Linked DNA regions of Homo sapiens. The protein of the gene in region 2 purifies or fractionates together with the protein of the main gene of each other region. This does not show direct contact. Each region holds a gene or a part of one and is shown on either strand. Other genes may lie near its edges.

Region 1 (7,276 bases), about 69 Mb from region 2:
GAGTCTAAGGCAGCAGTGACCTATGACTGGCACCACTGCACTCCAGCCTAGGTGACACAGCGAGACCCTGTCTCAAAAAACAAAAAACAAGAAGGAAGTGCAAGATGACCAGGTGCAGGCTGTGGGTGGGACCTGGCGGCCTATGCACACAAAAGTCTCATGCGGGCGGAGGGCCGCCAACCTGTCTTCATTTGTCCAGGATCTTCCCAGTTTGGAAACCCCTCAGTCCCAGGCACACTGGCATGTGATCAGTCACTCTACACGTGGGAAAACTCACAGTCAAAGAGGCTGGTCCCACGGCTGCCCTGCTGTGATGTCAGCCAAGTGGAGTTCGGGAGGGAGTGCCAGGAGCCAGGAAGGGACCGGGCCCCTGAGGACACCGGCGTACTCTCTGCCAAGGCTGGGCAGCACCGTGTTCAGGTTCAATCCCTGCTCTGCTCCTTCCTACCCGAGTGGCCCTGGGCTAGCATATAACTTGAGTCCGTTTCCTCGGCTGTAAAATGAGGACAGTAACCATTCCTATTTTGTACAGATTTTGTGAGGCATTAAATTCAATACTGCATGAAGGGTATTTTGAGCTTAGTAAATGCTCAAAACATGTTAGCTGCTATTTCTGGCTCTTCTTGTAACATCAGCAACCCTTCCTCATTGCACGGATGAGCAAACAGAGGCTGGGAGGACTGAAGCCACCTGTCCGAGCTCTCACCATGGGGAAGGGCGATATGGGTGATGTGGACTCAGAGTCTGAAGCTGGGGTCGTTGAGCCCCTCCCCTGACCTCCTCAGGCTCTCCCTTCATAAAGGGGCCACAGCCTCCCTGCAGGGCCCTGCTCACCGGAGCTGGCCGCCATGGGTGCCTGGGGCTGGAGCTCATCTAGGACGATGGAGGCCATCAGCTTGCGCATGCCCAGCATCCCCGAGGCCAGGTGCGTTGCGTACATGTCTCTCACCTTGGGGGACTCAGTCCCAGTGATGGCATCATGGTGCTGGACCTGCAGCAACCCCCAGAGGGGAGGAAGAACAGGATCAGGACCTGACTCTGCAAAGCACCTACAAGGCACCTACTAGGCGCTGGCTCTCATTCTGGCTTGCCAGGTGCCAGTGGAGAAGGGGGCAGTCCCCGCCATTTTACAGAAGGAGGAACTGAGGCCAAGAGAAGCTGAGGAGCTCGCCCAACTTTTCCTGCCCTTGTGGGAACTCATTGTCCCCCATCTCTGGACCCCCTGCTCTGAAGGACCCTGAAGTCACCTCATTTCTCCCACAACATAATGACATGTTCTGCCAGCAGCTCCTTTTGGGGAACTGTTACAGTGTCATGGCTGGTGTGACCCTTTTTTGGATAGGTGACTGAGGACAAGTTACAGGCTGTCTTGGGTCTGTTTTCCCATCAGTACAGTAGGGGATGGGTGGAGACGGAAACTCATGAACTGGCTATTCAGCAGCCACTGCACCAAGCAGGCTGTGCACACCAGCACATCCAATTGCCCCACCGTCCTCCTGGGCAAGCTCGTTGTTCTCATTGTACAGGAGGGAATTAGGTCTTGGGTGGGTGTGGGAATCATGTGCCTGACATCACACAGCTGAGCCGAGATATGGATGCAGGCAGGGCTGTCGGACACAAATGCCACTCCACCTTGTCCTTTATCCCTTTTGCTAAACTGCTACAAAGCTTAATGAGGCCACCAGCTGGATGGATCAGGCTGTGGTCTCAGCCTTGGCCTGGGTTCACCATGCACTGGCCTTGTAACCAAAGGGAACCTCAGTTTCCCCTCTGTAAAGTGGGGCCTCTAGTGCCCCAGGGCTGGAAGGATTGGCTAGGACAAGGGAGGGGAGGTGCGCAGCATGGGAGGTTCCAATCCTGCCACTGTGGCTAAATGTGGTGTTACCTCGGAGACGGCCCAGCGAAGCTGCTGGAGCTGCTGCAGGGCCCAGGTGGGGTCCAGATGCCCACGGGGGGCCGGCCACAGGTAGCGTGTGAACATGGACTCCCCGGCATACAACAAGGCGCTGGCTCGCCGGGCCAGCCCCTTCAGTGAGCTGCGGGACGTGTAGAAGCCCGTCCAGGCCTGGAATGGTTCTGGGAGACAAGGGAAGATGGTGAGCTTGAGACGGCATGACCCAGAAGTCTGCTAAGCTCCAGCCCTGGAAGAGCTGAGAAGCTGGGGCTGCAGAGGCAGCCTCTGCCAGGGTCACCCAAGGAGGCAGGCCGGGCAGGCAGCGAGCCCAGGGCTTACGGCTCCCAACTCAGGCCTCCTCCCATAGCCAGACTAGGAACTGCCCAGAAAACCCTGGATGGGCCTTGGGCAGGGTGGGAGAGACAGGCTGCACTGGGGCAGGTGGGGTGGGGTGCTGAAGGATCCTGATCGGAGGCAAGCCCAGGGTGCCTAGGAAACACAGAACAGCTGTGTGAGCAAAGGGCCTGGGAGACCCAGAGGGGAAGAGGAGGAGCCAGGTGGGCAGGACCCCACTGAGAAGGGCCTAGACTGCACAGAGGCCTTCATGTGTGACGTGGGCATGGGGAGGCCAGGACAGGCATGCGTTTCAGCAGGGATTCTCTGGGCGTCCAGGGAGGATGGATGGTAGGAGGCAGCAAGGGCTCAGAGACCCCAGGGAGCCAGTGTCCTGATGCAAGACAGAGAGGATGAGGATGCCCAGGGCCCATGCAGGAGGCAGGAGGGCTGAACCCTCCCAGGGAGTGGCTGTCTGTCTCAGAAGGGAGCTTCCTATTGCTTTTGCTTTCCTGCTCCTCGGCGTCTGGGATGTGCCCAGATTTGCCTTGATTCCCTGTTCTTCCCCCACTGGTCCTGAACCAGACTGGGAGGGGTGGTCACATGGCCCAGGGGACAGGCCACACCCTGTGGGTCAGATGGGGTCCTCCACAGCTTTGCAGCCATGTTGAGAGTGGGTGGTGAGGCCCGATTCCATTCAGTCTGGCAGGGGCTCCACATCCTCAGTGGTCATCACGATACCATGCCCGCCTGGATACCACGCCCACCTGGACGCCACGCCCACCCACACCCGCCTGGATACCACGCCCACCTGGATACCACGCCCACCTGGACACCACGCCCACCTGGACAGAGCCACACCCAACTTGACTCGGGTATATCCCTACCTGCTAGATGTGGCCACACCCACAGTCACTACCCCACCCACCTCACCATTAGCCATGCCCACATTAACATATCTCCTCCTGCCTTGACTATAACCACACCCACATCCACGGACATCCCCCAACCCGTGTGTGCAGCCCCACCTGCCTCCAATGTGGTGTCAACAGCAGGAGCCGGGGACTATGCAGCCCCACTGGTCACCATGCAGACCCAGAGGCTGGGGCCCAGAGAGGCAGGACTAAGCCAGGTCATGGGTGAGTCAAGGCAGTGCCCAGGCCAGAATGAGCCCTGCAGCTGGAGTTCATCTGTGGCATCTCTTTGGAAGGGAAATGTTATGGTTTGAATGCCCCTCCAAAACCCATGTTAAAATTTAATTGCCATTGTGACTGTATTAAGAGGTGGGATGCTTAAGAGGAGATTAGGCCATGAAGGCTCTGCCCTCGTGAACAGATTAATGTCATTGTCATGGGACTGGGATTGTTAGAAAAGCAAGTTCAACCCCCTTGTCCGGCTGTTCTTTTGCACTCAGCCTTCAGCCATGGGTGATGCAGAAAGAAGGCCCTCTCTAGACACCAGCCCTCCACCTTGGACTTCCCGGCCTCTACATCTGTGAGCCAAAGAAACTTCGTTTCCTAATCAATGACCCATTCTGTGGTATACTGTTACAGCAGCACCCAGAGGTCTAGGACATCTGCTGAGCCCTGCCTCTGTGCTGGGCAGGAGGCTGAGAGCACTTCTTCTCATTGAATTTTCACAGCAACCCTATCTATGCACGAGGCACCACAAATGTCCCCCTTTGGAGACAGGGTGGTTTCATGACTTGCACACAGGCAGCGAGTAGAGGCTTACTCACAGCCAGCCCTCTTAGCTCTCAGGCTGTGCTGCTGGTGGCCAACCCAGTTCTGGCCTGAGGACACAGGCATGATGCACAGGAGGTGCCCAGTAATGACTGTGCAGTGAAAGGAAGCCCGAGTCAGCCTCAGCATCAGGAAAGGGCTCGTAGAAGAGGTTTATGTGGAACTCATGCAGGAAGAGAAGGTGATGGAGGCCGCTCCCAGCAGGAGGCACCACCTGTGCAAAGGCCAGAGGCAGGAAACTGCATGTGGTGGGCAATGGTGAGAGGCTGAACCCTGTGGGAATCAGGTGGTGCATGTGGTGGCCAGGACGTCCAGGTGGAGTGAGCAGAGAGGGTCAGTCTCTGCCCCTGCGCCCCACACAGAACCTGCCTGGAACCCCTCCAGGGCTTGGAGAGCAGTGCCGAGCAGCCACTGAAGTGGGCAGAGGGTACGTGGACTATACCCTCCCTGCCACCAAACTACCACCCCAGCCCCTGGAAGCCTGTACCTGTGGAATAGGGCAGGAAGTCGTGGTGGTCGCGGACACGCCAGGTGACATTGAGAGCGTGCAGGGCACGGAAGTAGTCGCCCAGCGTGGCATACTGCACCGAGACACCGAGCTCGGCAGCATGGCTGTTGATGTGGTCCAGCAGCGGGTCCATGTTGGCAAACTGCACCGAGGCATTGAAGAACTGCTTGTCACATCCCTGCAGGGACATGGGAGCAACATCCTGTGCCGTGGGAGCAGGGCGCTCGCCCAGTGGGGGTGGGCCGATCGCTGCCCTCCACCAGCTGCCCTCCCAGTCTCCAAGGCGGCCAACAGGGGCCCCAAACCAGCTCCCATAGCAGTGGCTTGATCTCGGCTCATGCAACCTCCGCCTCCCGGGTTCAAGTGATTCTTCTGCCTCAGCCTCCCTGAGGCTGCAGGCGCCACCACACCTGGCTAATTTTTATATTTTTAGTAGAGACAGGGTTTTACCATGTTGGCCAGGCTGGTCCCGAACTCCTGACCTCAGGTGATCTGCCTGCCTTGGCCTCCCAAAGTGCTGGGATTATAGGTGTGAGCCACAGCGCCCGGCCCTGGGCATCTCTTAAGGCCCATCAGTGTTACTACTTATCCAAATCATTATAATTAATGATTATTAATTATTATAATTAATATAATGATTAATAACAGCAATAATAACCATGACTGAGTTACTGATCTTAAGCTTGCCTTCACAAGGGCAGTCACGGATGAAGAAGGCAGGCTCTGGGGCCCGCCTGACTGGGTCTGAACACAAATTCCACCCCTTCCTAGCCACCCTAAGGAACTCTGTGGCCTCAGGAAAATTCCTTAACCTCTCTGGGCCTTGGTTTCCTCAACTGTGAAATGGATACCAGCCTGCTTCCTAGGCCCAGTGGTGCAAATTAGATGGCTGAGACAAATATATCCCACGGGGCAGTGCCCAGCACACAGCAGGTGCTCACTAAAGGTTAGCTGTGACGATGGCCACGACGTGCCGGGCACTGGCTTCCCGGGAACGCTTCACCTCTCACCAAGCCTATGAAGCCTGCTGCCACCATCCCCATTTTACAGCGGAGGCAACTGAAGCTCAATGGACTCTAAGGCACGCAGTGCCCGAGCCGGGAGCCAGCCCGGCCCAGGCAGGGAAGAGAGCTGAGTGGGAGCTGGAGAGGCCAGCGTGGGTGAGGGTGCTTTTCCAGGTGGGGGAGGGGCTGGTAGAGTGGGAGAGGCCCAGGGGTCTGCAGGGAAGGAGGATGGAGCCACTGGGCTGAGCATGGCTGCCTAGCTGGGTCTGGATAGGGTGGCCCTGGGTGCAGGGACCAGGGCTTGCATAGTGCTCCTTGGGCTGTGTTGAGGGCACAGCACCTGGGACTCTGCCTTACCCAGGGCCAGAGGACGTGCGGTGTCCGGAACCAGGCGGCCCTCTGCTTCACGTTGGCCACCAGGGCCTCGGCATAGAGGTTGATGTTGGCTGGGGTGACAGGCTCACTCATGTTGGGGTACACCCCATCTTGGGGAGGCTTGGGGAAGACAGCCACGCCATTCCAGTAAAATCCTGACCTGTGCGAGGGCAGAAGGTTAGGGCAGAAGACACGAACTCTGTGGACAGCCAGGGCTCACACCCAAGTGCCATGTTCTCCCAGCCTTGGGACCTTGGCACATCATTTCACCCTGAGACTGAATTCTCCCACTCCATGACCGACGGTGGGTCACAGATTTGTTTGCTCATTCACGCAGGCCAACTTCTCGCCCATCAGACCCCGGGTCTCAGGACCCCAAAGAGGCCGGGGGCTTGGTGAGGCAAGTGAGGCCCTGGCCTAGGGCACAAAATTTATGGGGGTGCCTCAATTCTTAGTAGTTGAGATAAATGATATTTTAATGCAGTACTTTAAAAAATGAAAATTAATGCAAAAAACCCATGAGGAACAAAATGTCAGAGTTTTAAATAAAGACAGGCTCAGTATTTAACATCTTTCTCTGTTTGCCTTAGGCTGGGGGTGTGGAGAACCCCCAGTTAAGTGCCTTCCTTGCTCACACTGTGCAGCCTCGGGGTAGCAGCCATGGAACCCTTGTCTGGAGCTCTCCAACCTGGGCAGCCCCTTCCAGCATTCCCACCTCTGTTTCTTTTACAGACAGGGTCTTGCTCTGTTGATCAGGCTGGAGTGCAGTGATATGATCACGGCTCACTGCAGCCTCGAACTCCCGGGCTCAAGCCATCGCCTCAGCCTCCCCAGGAGCTGGGACTACCACCATGCTCGACTTGTTTTTGAATTTTATGTAGAGACGAGGTCTTGCTCTGTGGCCCAGGCTGGTCTCGAATTCCTGGGCTCAAGCAATCCTCCCACCTCAGCCTCCCAAAGCATTGGGATCACAGTCATCAGCCACCAGCACTGCCACCTCTAGCCTCACCAAGCTCCCTGGTAGAATGTGGAGCAGGTTGTTGTGAGGATTAAATGAAAGTCATTTATGGAAAGGAGCTAGAAACAGTGCTGGGCACAAAGGAGGGCTGACAAATGGCAGTGACCGCTAATTAATCCCGGCCAGTGTTCTTCACCCCCTCTGCCTTGCCTGTTGTCTTTCCTCTTCCAAGAGAGGCTAAGCACCTGGCCAGGGCAGAGTGCGGATTTGAACCCAGGGCCGTCTGACTGCACAGAGACCAAGGCTGACTGCTGCCACCACGTGGAGGCTGCAGAGCTGGTGGCCTGAATCCAACGCTGGCTCCACCACGTCTGCCAGCTGTGGGACCTGGGGCGGGCTGCTGTGCCTCAGTTTTTCCTTCTGTAAGATGGGGCACTCACAGCATCTCCGTCAGTGGGCTGC
Region 2 (8,230 bases):
GAATAGTCCCTGGCTTATAGTGGTGCTCAGTAAATACTTGATGAGTTAAATGGTCAGGCCGACCTTGAATGTTCCTCTCTGTATATTTTGTGGAGTTCAGTGAGTATTTAATTTCAGTCGCAGAAAATCTGCAATAATAAATTATATTAAAAATTGGCTGGGCGTGGTGGCTTACACTTATAATCCCAGCACTTTGGGAGGCTGAGCCAGGCAGATTACTTAAGCTCAGGAGTTCAAGACCAGCCTGGCCAACATGGTGAAACCTCGTCTCTACTAAAAACACAAAAATTAGCCGGGCATGGTGGCAGACACTTGTAATCCCAGCTACTCTGGAGGCTGAGGCAGGAGAATCATCTGAACCCAGGAGGCGGAGGTTGCAGTGAGCTGAGATAGTGCCACTGCACACTCCAGCCTGGGCGACAGAGGGAGACCCTGTCTCAAACAAACATACAAACAAACAAACAAAAAAATTAGAGTATAATAGAAAAAACAAGGCAAAATATTGCTTGGAATTTGAATATCAGTTTTAAGGTGGTTTATTATAGTCTAGACATGAAATTCACAGCATACCAACAACTACTTTAAAAACAAGTACTTTTTTAAAAAAAGGTAATGATGAAAGACCTTTTTTTTTTTTTATAATTACCTATACTCTGTGGTTATTTGGGCAGACAAAGCTGGCTTGCAGTGAACTATACTGATTTTAAGAGAAGTCAGCTTTCTACTTAAAGTTTAAGTGTGCAGTTCTTCCCTTACATGGTGCATGGAGTCTTAGAAACTAATTCTCATGTGCTTTCAGACTTGAGCCAGAAAGAATAAGTTCTATGATTGATTTACTCACAATAACTGCAAAACTCAATTTATTTTGTAGACTCAAAGAATGACTATCTTGGTCAAATCTCTAATTTCACAGATAAAATATCAGAGCCCAGAAAGTATCAGACAGGCCCCTTTCAATTCTATGCTGTGAGTCAAGTTGTTTCAACAGGTACAGGTTACTACATTAGGGGCTCTGGCAAACGCAGAGATGATTAAGATTAAGAGCCTGAGCTCAAGGAGTGGGCAGATGCTATGAAGCCAGGGATCTGCAGCAGAGAGCAGATGCCATACGTGCCGTAGGTGATGCACAAATAGCTGTAAGAATTCAAAGGTGTCAGAAAGAGAAACTGCAATTTTAAAATTATTATGTCTTAACAAAGACTTTGTCAAGGCAAAATCATAGTGGCATTTAAATGTTGTGCCTTAAAGCGGAACTGCAACAAACAGAGGTGAAAGCAAGTGGAGGGAGCAGCTGTGGTTGCTGCCGTGCATCAGTGAGAAGAGGATGAGTATGGAGATCCACACATGACCTTGTCGGGCAGACCCAGGGTGTGTGTGAACGAGCGATGAACTGGAAGCAGGGGCTGCTGGGATAGAATGAAGCTACATTTGAAGGACTTCGAGGGATTGTAGGGAAAAGTGAGCCAAATTCGGAAATCAAATCTGGTGTTTCAATGGGTGTTTTGTTTTTTGAGACAGAGTTTCACTCTTGTTCCCCAGGCTGGAGTGCAATGGCACGATCTTGGCTCATGGCAACCTCCACCTCCTGGGTTCAAGCGATTCTCCTGCCTCAGCCTCCCGAGTAGCTGGGATTACAGGCATGCACCACCACACCTGGCTAATTTTGTATTTTTTGTAGAGATGGGGTTTCTCCATGTTGGTCAGGCTGGTTTTGAACTCCCGACCTCAGGTGATCTGCCCACCTCGGCCTCCCAAAATGCTGGGATTACAGGTGTGAGCCACTGTACCCAGCCTCAGTGGGTGTTTTTAAGATGTGAATAAAATAAATCTCTAATCTCATTATAACTTGTTTAGCTATGTGTTTACAAAGCCTCCTGAAGAGCGGTTCACTTTTTGCAGAGAAAGTGGCAGGTGGCTAGTTTTGTTTTATGATGCTTCTTTTAGATGTCACTTTTAGTAGGTGAGGCTTGGGGGCCTTGCCTTGGGATATGGGGGCAGGTTTTGTTCATAATCTATGCCCTGTCCCCTGATTGCCAGAGTGTGTGCAGAGGTTGGATCAGGGGGTTTCTGAGTGTTCCACAACCAGCTCTTATGTCTCTCCCCTCCTCCTGTCTATTGTGAGCTCTGAGGGATGGGAACGGGGAATCTGTCTGGGGATGAGCAGGGTTTGGCTGAGCCCCTGCAAAGCCCCCTACCCAAGACATGTGAAAGGGGTGAAGTGCTCTGTTTGACTCCTAGGTCCATCTTCCGTAAACAGCATCTAGTTTTGGAATTAAAATAAACTGAAGAAAAGGTTAGATCTAGGCTCCCCAAGATTTCCTCCCCTTGTATTTCCCTCTTTTCATCCCTTCCCCAGCCTTTTCTTTCCTTTTCCTAGGGGTTTGCAAACCAATTGTAAGGCTCAGGACACATTTTGTAGTGGGAACAAAGAAAGAGAATAGGAACAGTTGAGAAATGGAATCTAATAAAATCCTAAAGAAAGAAACCTGTGCCCACCTCTGTGGCACCAAAATGCAGCTCAATAGATGTGATTAATTAAAGCAATGAACAAAGACTAAATACCCACCATGTGCAAATTAATATGCTGCTGGAGATAGAAAGTGGACAGTGCTGTAATTCAAAGTGGAATTGTTAGCTTTGTAACCATAATAACTAGTATTTGTACAGTGTTTTTAGCTTGAAGAGTTTTTCACAGATGATAGCTCATTTGGTCCTTGCAAACCCCATAACGATGGATATTGTTAATGTTGTCACTTCACATATGAGGAATCTGATACTCAGAGATTTTAAGTGTGTCTAAAGTCACAGAGCTATTGCTGAGACGAGGACCAAGGTCTTCAGGTGACAAAATCCAACTTCCTTCTCTTTAACCACACAGGCTGATGGAAGCTGAGGTAAATATTTCCAATTTATGGGAACGTATAATCATGGAGCCAGTTTTGTCTTTTCCTACAACTTATTAATTAGTGGACCCACAGTAGAATAAAAGCAAAACCCTTACCTTCTGCCACAGTTACCACCAACCAGCATACCAGTAACCAGTAGGAGAAGCAGTGTCTGCGAGCCATGGCTTCTACTGAGCAGTCACTGCGTTGAACCTGATGTTGCTTTAAAGGGGAGCTGGTGAGTCACCAGCAGCCTGATTCAGGTAATTTGCATTTGCACAGTGGACCACAGAGATCAGGGCTTGCGGTGTGAGGGTAAGAAATCAGCAAGGAAATACCAGACAGTATTTGTCAACCAGAAGCTTCTTGGAATGACAGCCAGATATCAATCATCTCCCCCCAGAGGGGGATTTTGGACAACCGCACCTTCACCATCCTTCTAATCTCTCAAATCTTCTCCCATGTTAGTGCCTTTTAGTTGTGTATATCAGTCTTCCTCTGCAAGAGAAATAAGCTGTCCAGAAATATGCAACAGTGCTTCTCTCTGTGCAGCTTACCTACTTAAAAAGCGAAACAAGAGGGAGAGGGCATTACCCGGAGGCTTCCTGACCCCGGTGGTTTGCAGTGGAGAGTTGGGGATCATTCTTAGGCCCCCAACCAGGGTTTATGCTGCTTCTCTGCTCTGCTTTTGTCCAGGAGGTGAGGGCAGCAGAATCAGAAAGTGATCTTCCCTAGTGGTCATGATGGTCACTGTCTAAACAAACATAAACATTGGGAGAGTAACTTAGTGAGTCGTCCTTTCACGGCTCCTCCTGATTCACCATATTGCATATAAAATGGACATGACATGTCTATGTCCAGTTGGTTTCCTGAGAGAAAGACTTCATCAGCTGCTGGATATATGAGAGGGGATTGTCACAGGTGATTAAGAACATGGACCTTGGAGTCAGGTAAAATTCCAGTCTTTGTTCCTTTTCTTACTAGCTGAGTGACTGTGGTGAGTCCCTGAGACTTGCTGAAGCCTCAGGGGCCTCACCTGTAAAATGGGACTTGTGGTACTACCCTCAGAGGAATTTGTGAATTAAGGAGATGCTTTTAAAAAAAATTTTTTTTAAATTTCAATCTTTTGGGGTACGAGTGGTTTTGGGTTACATGGATGGACTCTATGGTGGCGAACTCTGAGATTTTAGTGCACTCGTCACCCGAGCAGTGTACACTGCACCCAATATGTAGTCTTTTATCCCTCACCTCCTTCCCAACCTCCCCCACCCCTAGCCTCTAAAGTCCATTATATCATTCTGTATGTCTTTGTGTCCTCATAGCTCAGCTCCCACGTATAAGTGAGAACATACGATATTTGGTTTTCCATTCCTGAGTTACTTAACTTGGAATAATGGCCTCCAGCTCCATCCAAGTTGCTGCAAAAGACATTATTTCATTTTTTTATGGCTGAGTAGTATTCCATGGTGTATTTCTACCACATTTTCTTTATCCACTCGTTGGTCGATGGCCACTTAGTTGGTTTCATATCAAGGAGATAATTGACATACAGCTCCAACCACAGTGCCTGGCCTGTGAAAGGGAGTGTTTGTGATTGTCATTAAATTATAATAATCCCAACTGATAATTTATTCTCTTAGGAGGCTGTACTTGCCAAATCAGTTAATCACTGGAAAGACCTCCACTTTAAGCAGAACATTTTCCTGGGTATCATGGAAAAAAAAAAAAAAAAAAAAAAAGAACAAACTAAACATGGTCCCTGTCTTTGAAGGACTGACAATCTAACAAGAGAGGCTGTGCAAACTGAAAGTCTAAATGAATAAGGATGCAAACACTCACAGATAGAAAATGGAAAGTTCCTCAGGCTTGATGTTAGTCCTAGGCAAACTTCCAGAACAGATAATCAGATGGATGATTTGTCAGCAGTTTGAAAAGGAATCAGGAAACATCCAGGACAAATTGAGTTCCTTAGACTACCCATTCATTCAATAATTCTGTATTGACTTTTATTTATTCAGTGTCAGACACTGGTCAAGGTGCTGGGGCTAAAGATAAGATTCCTGCTCTCATGGAACTTATAGTTTAGGAGACATTAAAAATTAACTCAGGAATAACAATAAAGCGTTTTGAGTGCTAAGAGAGGGGAAGGACTGAAGGCTATGGGAGAACGAAGCAGACAAACACAGTCTGTAATTTTACATCAACGGGTCAGTATCACATATGCTACTTTGTCCCCTGCATTGTAAATACACCACAATGCCAATAGAATTAGATTCACATAATCACTTCAGCCACTGCCTGGTGTTTCATTTTATAGATTTACTGTAATTTATTTAACCAAACTTTTAACTGATGGACATTTCTATTACTTCTTCTGATTCTCTTTCTTTTTTGTTTTGGAGTGCTAATGAGCTTTCATCTTAAATGTTGATGAAAATAAATAACAAAAGCAAAATAACTTATTTTTTCATTCAAATCTGTTGTTCTGAAGTTTATAAAATAAAGGAACAAAATTTTAAAAGGAATACATTTTTTTTTCTTTTGAGATGGAGTGTCATTCTGTTGCCCAGGCTGGAGTGCAGTGGCACCATTTGGCTCACGGCAACCTCTGCTTCCTGGGCTCAAGCAATTCTCTTGCTTCAGCCTCCCGAGTAGCTGGGATTACAGGGCTACTCAGGAGGCTGAGGCATGAGGGTGTGCCACCACACCCAGCTAATTTTTTTGTATTTTTGGTAGAGACGGGATTTCACCATTTTGGCTAGGCTGGTCTCGAATGCCTGACCTCAGGTGATCTGCCCACCTCGACCTCCCAAAATGCTGGGATTACAGGTGTGTGCCACCGCGCCTGGCCAAGGAACACAATTTAAAAAAATTTTATCAAATTCTTATCCAGCAGAAAATTCCAACATTTCTTTGTTATTAGTGTATAGAATAACTAAGTCTCGGCATATCTTATGTCTTTGTATGTTATATATACAGTGGAGCCAAGTGTTTCCCAACATGTAAAATCAATGAAACTGTTGTGAAGTTATCAGATTCATTTGCCAAAAATCCTCATACCTTAAAAATATGAAAATATTTCTGAAAGCTTATTTCAAATGCAGTAGTTTTGGTAAAAATATCTTTTTAGTCATATACTTTAATTATCCACAAATCATTTAGTTGCAGACTGATCAATGAGACTCTAATGTGTATGTTTCCCAATGTCAAGAAGGCTATAAATGGCTTTGAGTCACAGTTGTTAATCCAGTGTGTTAAGGGGAAGAGCCCATGTACATAGGCCAGTTTGTGTTAGGTCTTTTTCTCACAATGAGAAATTATGAGGTATTGAGAGGAGTTAACATTTCTTTCCTCAAGACTGAAAGACATTAAGTGGTAAGATTGAGAGTCAGAACTGAGATTTTTCTGATTCCAAAATTTATGTTTTTTCTTCTAATTAAATATACAGTCATATGCTGTATAATGACTTCTTGTCAATGACAGATTGCATATATGACAGTGGTTCCATAAGATTATAATGGAACTGAAAAATTCCTATTGCCTAGTGACTTTGTAGATGCCATAAAGTCATAGCACAATACATTACTCACATGTTTGTGCTGATGATCCTGGTATAAACAAACCTGCTGCACTGCTAGACATGAAAAAAGTATAGCACTTAAAGTTATGCATAGTACATACTTGGTAATGATAAATGACTACATTACTGGTTTATGCATTTACTATACTATAGTTTTCATTGTTACTTAAGGCTGTACTCCTTCTATTTACAAAAAATAAGTCTGTTCTAAAATAGCTTCAGGCAGGTCCTTCAGGAAGTATTCCAGAAGAAGGCATGGTTATCATAGCAGATGGCAGCTCTATGCATGTTATTGCCCCTGAAGATCTTCCAGTGGAACAAGATGTGGAGGTGGAAGACAGTGACAGTGATGATCCTGACCCCGTGTAGGTCTAGGCTAATGTATATGTTTGTGTCTTAGTTTTTAATAAAAAAGTTTAAAAAGTAAAAAAAAAATTAAAATTTTAGAAATAGAATAAAACTTATAGAATAAGAATACAAAGAAAGTATGTTTATACTACTGTACAATGTGTTTGTATTTTAAGGTAAGTGTTATTACAAAAGGTCAAAAGGTTAAAAATTTTTAATTTTGGCCGGGCGCGGTGGCTCACGCCTGTAATCCCAGCACTTTGGGAGGCCGAGGCAGGCGGATCACGAGGCCAGGAGATCGAGACCATCCTGGCTAACATGGTGAAAACCCATCTCTATTAAGAATACAAAAAAATTAGCCAGGCGTGGTGGTGGGCGCCTGTAGTCCCGGCTACCGAGGAGGCTGAGGCAGAAGAAAGGCATGAATCCGGGAGGCGGAGCTTGCAGTGAGCCGAGATCAGGCCACTGCATTCCAGCCTGGGTGACAGAGTAAGACTCCGTCTCAAAAAAAAAAAAAAAAAAAAAAAATTAAATTAATTAAATAAATAAAATTTATTTATTTTTTCAGACAGAGTTTCACTCTTTTGCCCAGGCTGGAGTGCAATGGTGCAATCTCGGGTCAACACTGCAACTTCCACCTCCTGGGTTCAAGCAATTCTCCTGCCTCAGCCTCCGGAGTAGCTGAGATTATAGGCATGCAACACCATGCCCAGCTAATTTTTGTATTTTTAGTAGAGACGGGGTTACACCATGTTAGTCAGAATGGTCTCGAACTCCTGACCTCAGATGATCCACCTGCCTCGGCCTCCCAAAGTGTTGAGATTACAGACGTGAATCACCGCACCTGGCCAAATTTAATGTTTTTAATTTAAAGATTTATAAGTAAAATAGTTATAGTAAGATAAGGTTAATTTATTATTGAAGAAAATATTTCCATAAATTTAGTATAGCCTAAGTGTGCAGTGTTTATAAAGTCTTTAGGAGTGTAATGTCCTTCACGTTCACACACCACTCATTCACTCACTGCCCCACCCAGAGCAACTTCCCATCCTGCAAGCTCCATTTGTGGTAAGTACCCTACAGGTGTATTTTTTTTAATCGTTTATATGGTATTTTTACTCTTCCTTTTCTATGTTTGGATACACAAACACTTATCATTGTGTTACAACTGCCTACAGTATTCAGTACAGTAACATGCTCTACAGGTTTGTAGCCTAAGAATAATAGGCCTATACCATATAGCCAAAGTGCGTAGTAGGCTATACCAACTATGTTTGTGTAATGCCTACTATGATGTTGGCACAATGATGAAATTGCCTAATGATGCATTTCTTAGAGAATATCCATTTTGTTAAGCAATTCATGACTGAATTCCCTTTGTTTTAAACATCCATTCATTCATTCATTCATTTACTCA

The links.
Region 1: the proteins of ODAPH (region 2) and MAN2B2 purify together in Homo sapiens (affinity purification with mass spectrometry; 2 studies listed by BioGRID and IntAct, with this or other methods). This does not show direct contact.

What each region holds. Positions count from the first base shown.
Region 1 is NC_000004.12:6,591,913-6,599,188, reverse strand, and holds part of MAN2B2 (epididymis-specific alpha-mannosidase isoform 1 precursor), read right to left. Parts: intron 6,017-7,276; coding exon 5,839-6,016; intron 4,656-5,838; coding exon 4,457-4,655; intron 2,077-4,456; coding exon 1,886-2,076; intron 992-1,885; coding exon 835-991; intron 1-834.
Region 2 is NC_000004.12:75,550,921-75,559,150, reverse strand, and holds the start of ODAPH (odontogenesis associated phosphoprotein isoform 2 precursor), read right to left. Parts: upstream 3,086-8,230; 5' UTR 3,069-3,085; coding exon 3,002-3,068; intron 2,611-3,001; coding exon of another isoform or gene 2,567-2,610; intron 1-2,566. UniProt on the Homo sapiens protein: May promote nucleation of hydroxyapatite.